Linked DNA regions of Homo sapiens. The protein of the gene in region 1 purifies or fractionates together with the protein of each later gene. This does not show direct contact. Each region holds a gene or a part of one and is shown in the gene's direction. Other genes may lie near its edges.

Region 1 (7,026 bases):
TGCTCAGTGTTAGCCTTATATTGTTGAATAAGAAGACACAGTCCTTTATTTTCATGGGTTTAGTCTACTGAGACTACAAAGAACAAGTAAACAAAATAAGTAAAATAATTATAAATTGTGATAAGTACTCTAAAGGAAAACATACAGGGTTGGTGATAGAAGAGATTATGCAGGGACAGGAGGGAGTTGGGGGGCAATGGGAAACCTCCTTAAGTAGATCAGGGAAGACATCTTTGTGATGTCACTTCATTTGTGACCTAAAGGATGAGAAAGGAGTATGTTGAGAAGACTCTTGGGCTTAAGCAGGAGGTGATTTGATTTTTCATTTCATTCGGTTCAATTTGCTTTAAGAAGGAAATTGTTGCTGCTGTGTGGAGATAGGGTTGGAGAGGTTCAAGAACGGTTTAGAGACCAGATATAGATTTCCTGCAGTGATCCAGGTGTGAAATAGTAGTTTTGAGACAAGCATGGTGGCAATTGAGAGAAGTAAATGGATTTGAGACACATGTAGGAGATAGAATAGATAGGACTTGCTGGATGTGAGGGAAGGAATGCATTTAGGAGTTAGAGATTAGAGGAATGAGTTGGAGATTTAAATCTGAAAGACACCAACAGCAATTAAGAAAACCTTGGGGATTCGTTATTTACTAAACAAGAGTGCTTACTATGTCGTAGACACTGTTAGAGGTACCCAGGTACATAGGTTCCAGGTACATAGGTGTGCTCCAGGGGTTGAGGTTGAAAAGGCAGAAAACAGTTTAAATCATTATCTTGGGGAGTAGGGAGTAGGATAACACCTGCCCTCATGGAACTTACTTTATAATGGGGAAATAGACTGTAAACAAGATTAATACATAAAATATATATTATATGATTATAAATATTAACAAGAAAAAGGAAGCAGGATATGTGATATAGAGTAACAGGGGGATGAATTGTAGATGGGATGACCAGAGAAGGCCTCACTGAGATGTTCTTTGAGTGAATTCCTGAAAGAAGTAAGGAAGTGAGCCCATGCCATTATCTAGAGGAAGAGCATCCCAGGCAGTGGGAACTGCAAGAACAAAGCTGTGAGGCTGGAGCATGACTGCCTGTGCTAGGGACCACAAAGAGGCCGTGTGGAAGCGGATGGGGGGCAGAGGTTGTGGTGAGTGAGAGATGAGGTCAGAGGAAACAGTGTAGAGAAAGGCTGTGCAGAGCATACAGAGCCTTGAAGGTCTCTCTAAGGACTTTGGCTGAGTAAAATGGGAAGCCACTAGGTGATTATGAGGAGAGGAATGCCATGATCTTATACTTTAAAGAATTGATCACTCAGGCTGCTATGTTGAGCACTGAATAGGTAAGATCATATTATAAAGAAAATGAGAGTCCAGACCTGAGCCCTAAGGAACTCTAACATTTTGAGGTGTGGTAGAGAAAGAGCAGTAGGAAGGAAAAAAAGGATGGAGAGGTAGGAGGACCAGGAGAGTGTAGTGTCACAAAAGAAAGTGAGGAATGTTTCGGGGAGGAGGGTGTAATGGACAGTGTTGAACGCTGTCAAAGTGTAGACGAGGTTAGAAGTGTCATTTGACCTTGGCGATGCCGATGTCATGGGTGGTTTTGGCAAGCCATTTTAGAGGAGTGGGGGCAGAAGTTAGAGTGTAGTAAGTTGGAGAGGAAAAATGGGATGTGAAGAAGTGGAGAGAATATGTGTAGATGAATACTCTTGAAAGTGAAATAGGATAGAAGCTGGGACTGTGGAATCAAATGAAGTTCCTTTTTTATTTTGTAAGATGGAAGGTACTAGAACATGTTTAAAAATGATTGGGAATGATCCAATAGAGAAACAAGATTATGTTGATGATACTAATGGTAGTTAATATTTACTGAACACTTAGTGTCGGACACTGTGCTTGGATGTGGATTAAAATAATCCTAGGATGGATATATAAATTACCTTTTCATGTAAAGAAACTAGGGTTGGAGAAATTACTAGTCCGAGGTCACATAGTTAATATGTAGCTATCAGGATGTGAACCTAGACATTTGAACTCAGCTATATTGCCTACATCGATGATTCTAGGAAAATAAAAGTGAATGACCACATCAAGCAAAGTCCATCCTTGAGAAGGCAAGAGGGGATGTGAATTGGAATGCAAGGGAGGACTGGTCTTTGAAAAAGGGATGGTCCTTTCCTCCACGGCATTGAAAGAGAAGGCAGGTGCAGATGGCCACAGTTGCCTGCAGGTGTTTTAGTGGTGAGAAGACAAGACTTCATATCTAAGAGCTTCTCGTATTTTTAAAGAAGTCAGAGGTTAAGTAACTGGCTGAGACTATAATAAGAGTGTGCTCTACGGGTAGAGGTTGAGAAGGCAGAAAACACTTAAAATCATTATCTTGGGGAGTTGGGAAGAGATCTTGGATTGTTTGGCAGTTTTCTGTGCCTGTTTGAGATTTTTGATCATGAATTTTAAATGAAACCAGTCACAGTTGTATGATTTTCTGCAGCAAGACTTAGCTGCTGAAGTGCAGGCAGGGGTACGTGATAGGGTTTAGTTGGTGCCAGGATTTTGCTAGGATTGTAAAAAAGGAAAAAAGGTTTGAGGGAGATGATGACATTTTGACAGGAAAGTGACCATATTAAAGGACTGGTGAAATTGGGCTGGATGAAGAGCAAAGTGAAGCCAGCACAGATGGGGAGAAAGTCATAGGATCTGTGGACCTCAGTAAGATCAATGATTTGTAGCAGTGGAGATACTTGAGCAAATAAGATTTAGGAGGTGGTGATCAGAGAGTGGGCTATCAGAGGTGGTTCAGTCTCTGAATGTCATGGTTCAGGTTGTGGCCATGGGAGTGGAAGGCTGAAGTGAATAGAGGAGAGAGAAAATAACCCAGAATAAGGACACCCAGAAATTATCCCCATTTAATCTCAATTTTCTTTCAGAGAGGTCATGACTTTCATGAAGGCGTTAGAGCTGGTAAGTGGCAAATGGGAACTTACCATTTTGGGGAAATGGGATTTGTGAGCATATGCTGTTAATTAAAGAAGATACAGATTATGCATCCCAAATCCTAAAATCCAAAATGTACCAAAATCTGAAACTATTTGAGCACCAACATGACACTCAAATGTTCATTGGACCATAAGTATAATGCAAATATTCCAAAATCTGAAAAAAAAAAAAAAAATCAAACCTGAAACACTTCTGATCCCAAGCATTCCAGATAAAGAATACTCAACCTATAGTTGTTTTAGTAGTGAAAATTAAACTTTTATTAAGATTGCAAAGTTGTGTATGTTTTTAAAGAATATGTTACCATCTGGGATATGAAAAGGAAGATCAGTCTTTGAAACTGATAATTGTTTTAAAAATTCACATAACTTGGCCACTGTTTCCTAATTTATATATAAGGTAATCCTGCCCCTACAATCATGGACTGCATCTGATAAGTGCAGCATTGAGCTTGTAAACTCATCCTGCTGCCATCCTGCTGCTGTGGCCTTTGAAACATGCATTTATTACCTTACAAAAAGCCCTCAAATCCCCTACCCTTTCTCCCTCTTTCGTGCTGGCCTGGCAAAATTGACCAGTGGTCTAACCCTACTTTCCACCTTCTTGCCTGTACCTCAGCAGTTAAACATTGCTGGGGAAAAAGACCATATGATGTCATTAGTAACATCTGCAGATTGTCTTATTAATACTTTCCATTTTGCTTATAATCTCCAATGTCAGCATATTTAGAAAAAGCAAGTGAAGTGCTTGACGTGCTTGACTGTTTTTTCTAGCATACTTGCAACAATTCCTTTTTATGCATAATTCTTATCCTTATAAAAAGCTGTTATTTATGTTGTATAAAATGAGTTGTTCCCTCTGCATGTATTTTGCATATCTAATGTTCCTGTTTTTATTAATTATTTTACTATAGTGCAGACTCTGGATATCCTTTGTTTTTTTTATTTTATTTTATTTTTTTTGGAGACAGGGTCTCACACTGTCACCCAGGCTGGAGTGCAGTGGTGCACTTTCGGCTTACTGCAACCTCCACCTCCCAGGTTCAAGTGATTTGCCTACCTCAGCCTCCTGAGTAGCTGGGACTACCAGCCCATGCCACCACGCCTAGCTGATTTTTGTATTTTTAGTAGAAACGGGGTTTCACCATGTTGGCCAGGCTGGTCTTGAACTCCTGATATTATGTGATCTGGCTGCCTTGGACTCCCAAAGTGCTGTGATTACAGGCATGAGCCACCGTGCCCAGCCTGGATATACTTTTTTATCTGAATAAAAGGTTATGTTATGTTCTCTCAGCTCTTAAGCTTTGATAAACAATCACTCTTCATAGAGTTCTCTTCATTTCTGACATGATACAATATCAGAAATAAGGACTTGATTGAAATCTTTTTAGTATTCAGCACATGGAGCTGATCAGAGGAGATGGCAGTGTGTCTTGTAGAAACTAAGTAACATAGGCATTTTCCTCACAAATTCTCTGCAAATTCTTGCTGCATGTGGATTACAGCCTAGAACTCTGATTTTAGAGGACCTGTAAGCATACAGGGTTATATTGTTAAAGTATTCATTATATGTTATAATAGCCCTTCTTTAAAAAGAAAGATACTGTTTTTAGATAAATACTGTTATTTTGAGGAAAAAATGTTGAAACCAATCAGCATCAAAGTTCTGATTCATAAAGGAAGTGCTTATTATACGACTTTTTTTTGTTTTGTTTTGTTTTTTGAGATGGAGTCTCACTCTGTCACCCAGGCTGGAGAGCAGTGGCAAAATCTCGGCTCACTGCAAACTCCGCCTCCCGGGTTCACACCATTCTCCTGCCTCAGCCTCCCGAGTAGCTGGGACTAAAAGCGCCTGCCACCACGCCTAATTTTTTTGTATTTTTAGTAGAGACGGGGTTTCACAGTGTTAGCCAGGATGGTCTCGATCTCCTGACCTCGTAATCCGCCTACCTCAGCCTCCCAAAGTGCTGGGATTATAGGCCTGAGCCACCGCGCCTGGCCTATGCTACTTTTTAATGAAGAGAAAGTATATTGCCGCCTCTTTCAGAAAGCAGCGTCTGTTCTGAGATTGAAAACTGTTGTGTTCTTTACATAGTCAAATGTTTGCTGCAGTTTGCTAATAATAAAAACATATTAGCAAGTTAAAGTAAGTTAGCAAATTTAACAGTTGTTAAAAATTCTTACTGTTAACATCTAGAACAAATTACTACTTTGTGGTTATAGAAGAAGAAAAAAAGACCATCTTAGTGGAGCTGGATACCCACTCAAACTCCATGTAGTGGCTATCTCAGGAGACTTGCAAAACCTGAGCTGCCTACATGGCACGAACTTGTATGTATTCTAGTAAAAAAATTGTTAGCTTGAAATAAAATAACAAATTTGATTAATAGTCTCTTTGCTCTTGTCCTTCAGTGGGATCTCAAGGAGACAGGTAGTATTGACCAGAAGACTTAGAGTGAGAGAGATTCTTGTGGAAAAAATGTGCCGGGGTTGTTCTTTGTTTACACTGTCCACGGAATATAAAACTTTCAAATAGTAGGGATCAGAACATCAGTATTTAATATCGCCACTGATCTGATACCAGAATCTCATAGTAGGCAGTTAAATCTTAAAAACAAACCTCCCGTATCTGCATTTAATTGTATGTAAAAGCTTCCCTCCACCTACCAAGGCAGTCTTCTTCCTTGGTTCCCATACTGCTTCTTTAACTATTTTAGCCTTTAAATGCTAAATTAGGTTTTTCTAGTTCACTATAGTTTGCACATTTAAATATTTCCATTCTTCACAAGAATTATGTGCATTTTAAGCATGGTTGAAATTTGCTGCCACAACCATAACATTAAAATTTGGAGATCATTGTAGATTCATGCGGTTGTAAGAAATAATATAGAGATCTTGCATACCTTCCACCCAGTCTCCCAAATGATAACGTGTGTGTAACTACAGTATACTGGACATTCCTCCCCCTTTTTTTTCGGAGAAGTTACAGATTGCCTCATAATCCTGTGGGGATACTATGTGGCTATGATGAGTGATGACTACACTGAAATAGGAGAACTAGACGGTTTCATGATAACCTGATTTTTTTAAATCCAGAGCTGTCTGAACTGGAGGATTCAGCAGAACAACAGTATCCACATTTAATTATGCATGAAGTCCCCTTTTCTCTACCTTAAGCAATTAATTTCCTCCCAAAATTCAATGTGGAGGAGGTTAGAAGGCACATCTGGTCCCTCTGCCCTCCCCTGCCTTTACTTTAAACCACTGGTTTTACCTGTTTTGTAATGTGGAGGTTTCACTGGCAATTTTATTTCAAGAAGAAAAAAAGAATTCTAATGTTTAAACCACTGGATTAATTCAGTAGGCTTTATTAAAGCTAAGACATGAGGCTTAGGAAGTTAGAAAATATCCACCCCAGTCATCAAAAGTATATTGCTGTCCATCCCTGGAGATTTAATTTAAAAGAAAAATAGAATACATATAAAAATTTTGCAGGAAAAAAGTATGATAGAAAAATGTGCCTAGTATAAGAATTTCTGTCAATTCAGTAAGTAAAATCTAGCAATATTAGACAAAAATAATGGTATTAACATTTGTATCTTCTCTTGACAGTTTTAATTGATAAAGACCAGAGTCCAAAATGGAAACCAGCTGATCTAAAAGAAGTTACTGAGGAAGATTTGAATAATCACTTTAAGTCTTTGGGAAGCAGTGATTTGAAATTTTGAGGTGACAGGCTTTTAAGGTATATTTTGTAGCATGGGTTGGCAATCTACAGCATGTGGGCCAAATCCAGCCTGCTGCCTGTTTTTATATACCCTGTAAGCTAAGAATGGTTTCCGCATTTTTAAATGGTTGGGAAAAGAAATCAAAGACTAATAATTCATGACGTGAAAATTATCAGAATTCACAAATAAAGCTTTATTGGAACTAGCTATACTCATCTGTTTATATATTATCTGTGGCTGCTTTGAAATGAGTAGTTGCAATAGAGATGGTAAAGCCTACAAAGCCTAATTATTTACTGTCTGGTT
Region 2 (7,026 bases), on another chromosome or scaffold:
CTGTGAAATGAGGATGGTAATGCCTAACCGGCAGGGCTGTTTAAAAATTAAATAATAGCAACAAACCATTTATTTTGTATTAGGATGAGCACTTACATGCATTTTCTCAGTTAAATGTCCCAGTAGTCTATCATAGCAGTCTATGAAGTAAGTGCAGTTATTATAATCACATTACAGATGGGGAAACTGAGGCTCAGTGACTTAAATAACTTGCTTAAGCTCACATAGCAAGCAGTCTGACTTCAGTGTCTTCACCACCACACTGTACTTCATTTCATTCCCGCCTCTAATCAGTACATTTATTGCAAGCCTGCCACAGTGCCTACCATTTGCTTCCTTCCCCCTCAGTGGATCTGCTGTCACAAGGAGTATAGCCGTAAAATTTTAGCCTGTGAAAATATGTAGGAAAATGTAAAAAAAAAAAAAAAAAAAGACACTGAGGATGCAAATTACCTGTATACTTGGAAGTGATTTGCAAAAGCGTTTTGCTAAACAGGCAACATTCAAGGGCCTGTAAGAAACCAGATTGATTGTTTTGCTTAGCACTGCTGCTGCTGGAGCTGCTGGTGGTTCTGTGGCCAGCAGTGAACCTGATATGCTCTGCAGTGTATAATAGCCATACTGTCTGAAACAGTCTTTTGGGTTTACCCAGGGTAACACCCCTTTGGAGTGTCCCCCAGAAAGAACCTACCTGCTCTGAGTCTCCAGCTATGCACTTCACCCACCTAGTCGTCTCTCCCCTCCTCCAGTTCATGTCTCAGTCGTCTCTCTTGGAAGATATGAGGGGCGGTTTGTCCATCAGAAAGGTTGAGCAGTTGGAAATTCATTACAAAGCGCAACATGAAAGAGGCTTGGAGTAAGATCAGTATAACATAGATGGAGAGGAGTGACTATAAGCACATGACAGAGATGCCCCAAAGGACAAGCAGGATGTGCTCTAGGTGGCTTTGTGCTTGTCACTGGGGAGTGGAAATGGTGACATATGCTACAAAAATAGGACTGGGCTGACTTCACCTCTTACATAACTCTCATTTCATACTTTCCTTTCTTGAAGGCAGTGATGGTGGTCTAGAAATTATTTTTGAATCTGTTTAAATCTCAGCTCAGTCACTTACAGAAGTGAAGTGGCTTTTATGAAGTCACCAGCTTATAAATGGCAAAATTAACTAGAAGCTCTGGTTGGCAGTTAAATATTTGTATTTTAGTGGAAGAGATAATTAGTGCAGTTTGGAAGGCAAGTTTTCTGGATAGGACGTATGGAAGGCGGAGGTAGAATTATAAAAGGCATCCTTGCAGGAGACCACTACCTAAAAAAGTCTTTCTTCTTGTCTGCCTTGTTAACAAATAGTATCTGGTAGAGGGCCTGTGGTAGTCTTCCACCCTGGTTCTTTCAGGAAATTTTCTGTTCTAATTGCTTCAAAAGAAACAATACAGTATTGGCTGGTGCAGTGGCTCATTCCTATAATCCCAGCACTTGGGGAGGCTGAGGTAGGAAGATCACTTGAGCCCTGGAGTTTGAGACCAGCCTGGGCAACATAGCAAGATCCTGTCTCTACCCGAGAAAAGGAAAGAAACTATACAGTATTTATTCGATATCACTTTTGTTTAACTGCTTATGTTGCCACTTTGAACCTGTCCTCTTTCAGTATTTATGAGTTTACTAATCCTGATACCTCTTTGTCATTCAGACTTGGCTCTTGGCACTGACTTTTTTTTTTAAATTATTATACCTTCAAAGATTACCATGTCTGAGGACAATTGAAATATTGCAGTCTTGAGTAGCATTTCTCAAAAATAATTCTCAAACTGCTTAGATGTATACTCTACTTTTGTGTTTGGGATCTCCAAGACCACCCCAAATCCAGAGACTGTCTAGAACTAGGACAAGTGGGTCCCAGTATACAGCTGTATTCAAGGCTGAGATTATTACCATATCTAGTAAGGGGTCACAGCCAGATCATGATGGCAGAAGACATGGGGGGTCTGGAGGAGCCTGGGTGCAGGCTTCCTACATCTGTCCCTCCCTGAGAGGGCCACACAGCAATGAAAATGCAGCAACATGTGTCCAGGGAAGCCCATTAGGGATTCAGTGCCCAAGCTGGTCACATAGGCACCCTCTGCCTAGCATGAACCAAAATTCCAGACTCCCAGAAGGCAAGCAGGTTTTCAGCATGAACTACATTGTACATCAGTTTAGACACAGCGAGACACTCTCCATCATTTAGGGAAAATTTTGTATCTGTGTAGAGAACTGTTACTAGCCAAGTTCCCAGATGCCAGGCAAGGGGCAGCCTTGGAAGCAGACCTTCCTAAGGATAGCAGTCTCACATCTGCTGTGTAACTCTCTTCTGTGCATTTATAAAATCGGTATTGTAAATAACAGGAACTCTAAGTTTCTAACAAAAAGTTTCCCAGCTTCTGTTTGTGCTTTTTCTTTTTAAAAAATAAAACTTTAACAGCCTTATGGCAAATTACTGCACAATGTCTGATCTAGTGCAGTGGTCCCCAACCAGTCTATGGCCTTTTAGGAACCAGGCCACACAGCAGGAGGTGAGTAGTGGGCAAGTGAGCAAAGCTTTATCTGTGTTTATAGCCACTCCCCATCACTCACATTACCACCTGAGCTCCACCTCCTGTCAGATCAGCAGCAGCATTAGATTCTAATAGAAGCACTAACCCTATTGTCAGCTGTGCATGTGAGGGATCTACGTTGTGTGCTTCTTATGAGAATCTAATGCCTGATGAACTGTCACTGTCTCCCATGACCCCCAGATGGGACCATCTAGTTGCAGAAAAACAAGCTCAGTGTTCCACTGATTCTACACTATGGTGAGTTGTATACTTATTTCATTATATATTATAATAATAAAGTGCACAATAAATGTAATGTGCTTGAATCATCCTGAAACCATCCCCCATCCCCCCATTCCGTGGAAAAATTGTCTTCCATAAAACTGGTCCCTGGCTCCAAAAAGATTGGGGACTGCTGATCTAATGGTAGGCCACAAGAGGGTGTTTCCTGGGGAAAGCCTAGCTGACTACCTAGCAAAGGCTGTAGGATGGCACCATTGTATAGTCACTTAAGTCATGAGGTCCAGTTCTCATTTTGTAGGCTCAGAAATTTGATTCTGTTGGTGTACATAGAGGTGGCTCATACTAGCCAAACGCATGAGAGACTGACTTATATACTAGAATATCCTTTTATAATTTCCCTGGGAAAAAAATAAACTGTCAGGTAGGTCTGGTCAGCACTTCCTCTGCTTTTGGGGAGAGAAACAGGTGGAGAAGTCAGAGGTTTCTGATTGGGGCGGATGTGCAGCATGTTCACTAGTACCCTTTCTCTGGAGACACCAGCAGTCTGGGCCTCTCGGGCCTCCCTGGCATTCCTTGCATACCATTCCCTCCTGTTGTCTAGTTCTTTTTTTTTTTTTTTTTTTTTTCCTGAGACGGAGTCTCACTCTGTCGCCAGGCTGGAGTGCAGTGGCACGATCTCGGCTCACTGCAGCCTCCGCCTCCTGAGTTCAAGCGATTCTCATGCCTCAGCTTCCCGAGTAGCTGGGATTACAGGCACCTGCCACCATGCCCGGCTACTTTTTGTATTTTTAGTAGAGACGGGGTTTCACCATGTTGGCCAGGCTGGTCTTGAACTCCTGACCTCATGATCCGCCTGCCTCGGCCTCCCAAAGTGCTGGGATTACGGGTGTGAGCCACCACACCCGGCCAGAATCACCTTTCTTTTTAAGCTTGATTGTATGGATAGACCACATCTTGTTTATGCATTCGTCCATTAGCGCACGCTTGAGTTGCTTCCACCTTTTGGCTATTGTGAATAATGCTGGTATGAACACGGGTGTGCAAATGTTTGTTTGAGTCCCTACTTTGAAGTCTTCTATTTTTTTTGAAACAGATTCACTCTGTTGCCCAGGCTGGAGTGCAGTGGCGTGATCTTGGCTCACTGCAACCTCTCCCTCCCAGGTTCAAGTGATTCTCCTGCCTCGGCCCCCAAAGTAGCTGGGATTACAGGCGCCCACCACCACGCCCGGCTAATTTTTGTATTTTTAGTAGAGATGGGGTTTCACCATGTTGATCCGGCTGGTCTCAAATTCCTGACCTCAGGTGATCCACCCACCTCGGCCTCCCACAGTTCTGGGATTACAGGCGTGAGCCACTGGGCCTGGCCTGAATTATTTTGTGTCTATACCCAGAAGTGGAATTGCCGGATCATATGGTAAATATATTTTTAATTTTTTAAGGAACTTCCGTACTGTTTTTCTATAGAAGCTGCACCATTAGCTGTTTTATAATCTACTCTTCTCAGTTAATTGTGTTTAACTTTCCATATTAATAAATTTTCATTTTATACCTAGTCCATACTCACATTTATTTCAAAATATCTTTCAAAATATCTGGTTTCAAAAATGTCTTTTGTATCTGGTTTGTTGAAACCAGATTCTAGTCCAGAGGTAAGTATTGCATCTGGTTATGTCCCTTGTGTTCTGTCTGCTAACCTAGCATTGTCCCTTCCCTTTTTTCTCTTTTTTAACAGCTTTTTCTGAGGTATAACTTATATACCATAAAATTTACCTGTTTGAAGTGTACAGTGCAAAACTTTTTAATGAATTTACAAAGTTGTACAACCATCACCACAGTTAAATTTTAGGACATTTCTATCACCCCCAAAAGATCCCTTGTGCCCATTAACAGTCACCCTCACTTCTCTCCTCCCAACCCTAGGCAACCACTTAATCTACTTTTTGTCTCTGTAGATTTGCCTTTTCTGACATTGCATATAAATGGAATCATGCAACATGTGGTCTTTTGTGTCCAGCTTCTTTCACTCTGCGTAATGTTTTCAAGGTTCACCCATGTTGTAGTGTGTGCCAGTACTTCTTTCCTTTTTATGGCTGGATAAGAGCCCATTGTATGGATAAATCACATTTTCTCTGTCTGTTCATCAGTTGATGGACATTTGGATTGTTTCCACTTTTTGGCTGTTATGCATAGTGCTGCTTTGGACATTCATGTACAAGTATTTGTGTGGACATAGATTTTCATTTTCTTGGGTACATACCTAGGCGTAGAATTGTTGGGTCATATGGTAGATTTATGTTTACATTTTTTAAGAAACTGTCAAACTGTCTTCCAAACTCAGCCTCCTTTAGTTACATGGCACTTATAAAGACAGTAGGCCTAGGTCCCACGTACAGCCTCTTTTGTATTTATTTGGTTGTTTTCTCGAGATGTCTTTCATAGGTTGTCCCCAGTCTCCTGTATTTTCTATGAACTGGATGTTAGATCTGGAGTTTTGTGGATTCAAATTAATTGTTTCTGGCTAGAATACGTCATAGGTTGTTTTATACTTCATTTTGGGTCATATCAGCAGGTACATATTTAAGTTTTTTCCAAGTCGATTTTGGGTCCAGCATCATTTGTTGAAAAGATTCTTTCCCCAACTTACCTTTTTTTTTTTTTTTTTTTTTTTTTTTGGGAGACAGGGTCTCACTCTGTCACCCAGGCTAGAGTGCAGCAGCATGATCTTGGCTTATTGCAACCACTGCCTCCTGGGCTCAATCGATCCTCCTACCTCATCTTCCCAAGTAGCTGGGAGCACAGGTGCACGCTACCGTGCCTGGCTAATTTTTTGTATATTTTTTGGTAGAGACGAGGTTTCACCATGTTGCCCAGTCTCATCTCAAACTCCTGAGCTCAAGCAATCCACTCACCTTGGCCTCCCAAAGTGCTGGGATTACAGGCATGAGCCACTGCATGCGGCCTATGTGTGGTTCTATTTACAGGGTTTTTTGTTTGTTTTTTTGTTTGTTTTGAGACAGGGTCTTGCTTTGTCACCCAGGCTGGAGTACAGTGGTGCAAACAGAGCTCACTGCAGGCTCTCTCCTTCTGGGCTCAAGCAGTCCTCCCACCTCAGGCCCCCAAGTAGCCATCATGCACGGCTGATTTTTGTATTTTTTATACAGATTGGGTTTTGCCATGTTGCCCAGGCTGACCTCAAACTCCTGGGTTCAAGCAGTCCTCACACCTTGGCCTCCTGAAGTGGTGGGATTACGGGCATGAGCCTCTGAGCCCAGACTATTTATGGATCTTTAAAGAATCCCTGCAGCCTCCCTAAACTCAATCTCTGTGATTTGCCTGAGGTTCTACTCCCAGTACCAAGACCTAGAATATGCCTCCAGGTAGGAAGTCAGACTAAATGTGGGGCTTACTTCCTGTGTTTCCCTTCTCTTAAGGACCAGTCCTTTTTTCTATTGTCTGAAAGCAGTTGTTTCACATATTTTGTTTCATTTTTCAGTTGGGTTTGTTTTGTTTTGTTTTGTTTTTTTACAGTGAGAAGCCAAGATCCATGCTCCTTGGTAGTCAGAAGCAAGTTTGTTTCTCTCTCTCTCTCTCTCAGATGGTTTCTATTCTGTGTCTTCAAGTATTCTGATATTTTCCTTTGTAGTATCCCATCTACTAAACTCATCTAATGTAATTCTCATTTCAGACATTGTATTTTTCACTTCTAGAAGTTTCATTTGTTTTTTGTTTTGTTTTGTTTTGAGGTGGAGTTTCGCTCTTATTGCCCAGGCTGGAGTGCAATGGCGCGATCTTGGCTCACTGCAACCTCCGCCTCCAGGGTTCAGGTGATTCTCCTGCCTCAGCCTCCCAAGTAGCTGGGATTACAGGCACCTGCCACCACACCTGGCTAATTTTTGTATTTTTAATAGAGATGGTGTTTCACCATGTTGACCAGGCTGGTTTCGAACTCCTGACCTCTGGTCATCCACCCACCTCAGTCTCCCAAAGCGCTGGGATTATAGGCGTGAGCCACCACACCTAGTATTTGGTCTTATTTAAATCATCCATTTCTCTCCACATTATGTTTATGTTTTTCTTTAAATCTTTCAGCATATTGAGCATATGTATAATAGCTGTTCTTAAGGTCTTATTTTGCTGATTCCATCATCTCTGTAATTCCTGTTCTTTATTTTTCTCCTGGTTATAGGTCACATTATTTTCTGCTTTTTGGCA

Evidence for each region. Proteins that work in one complex are often made in the same cells at the same time.
Region 2: the proteins of HIBCH (region 1) and MKRN2 purify together in Homo sapiens (affinity purification with mass spectrometry; 3 studies listed by BioGRID and IntAct, with this or other methods). This does not show direct contact.

What each region holds. Positions count from the first base shown.
Region 1 is NC_000002.12:190,204,811-190,211,836, reverse strand, and holds part of HIBCH (3-hydroxyisobutyryl-CoA hydrolase, mitochondrial isoform 1 precursor), read left to right. Parts: intron 1-2,923; coding exon 2,924-2,957; intron 2,958-6,604; coding exon 6,605-6,720; 3' UTR 6,721-7,026. UniProt on the Homo sapiens protein: Hydrolyzes 3-hydroxyisobutyryl-CoA (HIBYL-CoA), a saline catabolite. Has high activity toward isobutyryl-CoA. Could be an isobutyryl-CoA dehydrogenase that functions in valine catabolism. Also hydrolyzes 3-hydroxypropanoyl-CoA.
Region 2 is NC_000003.12:12,560,066-12,567,091, forward strand, and holds part of MKRN2 (E3 ubiquitin-protein ligase makorin-2), read left to right. Parts: intron 1-691; exon of another isoform or gene 692-934; intron 935-7,026. UniProt on the Homo sapiens protein: E3 ubiquitin ligase catalyzing the covalent attachment of ubiquitin moieties onto substrate proteins.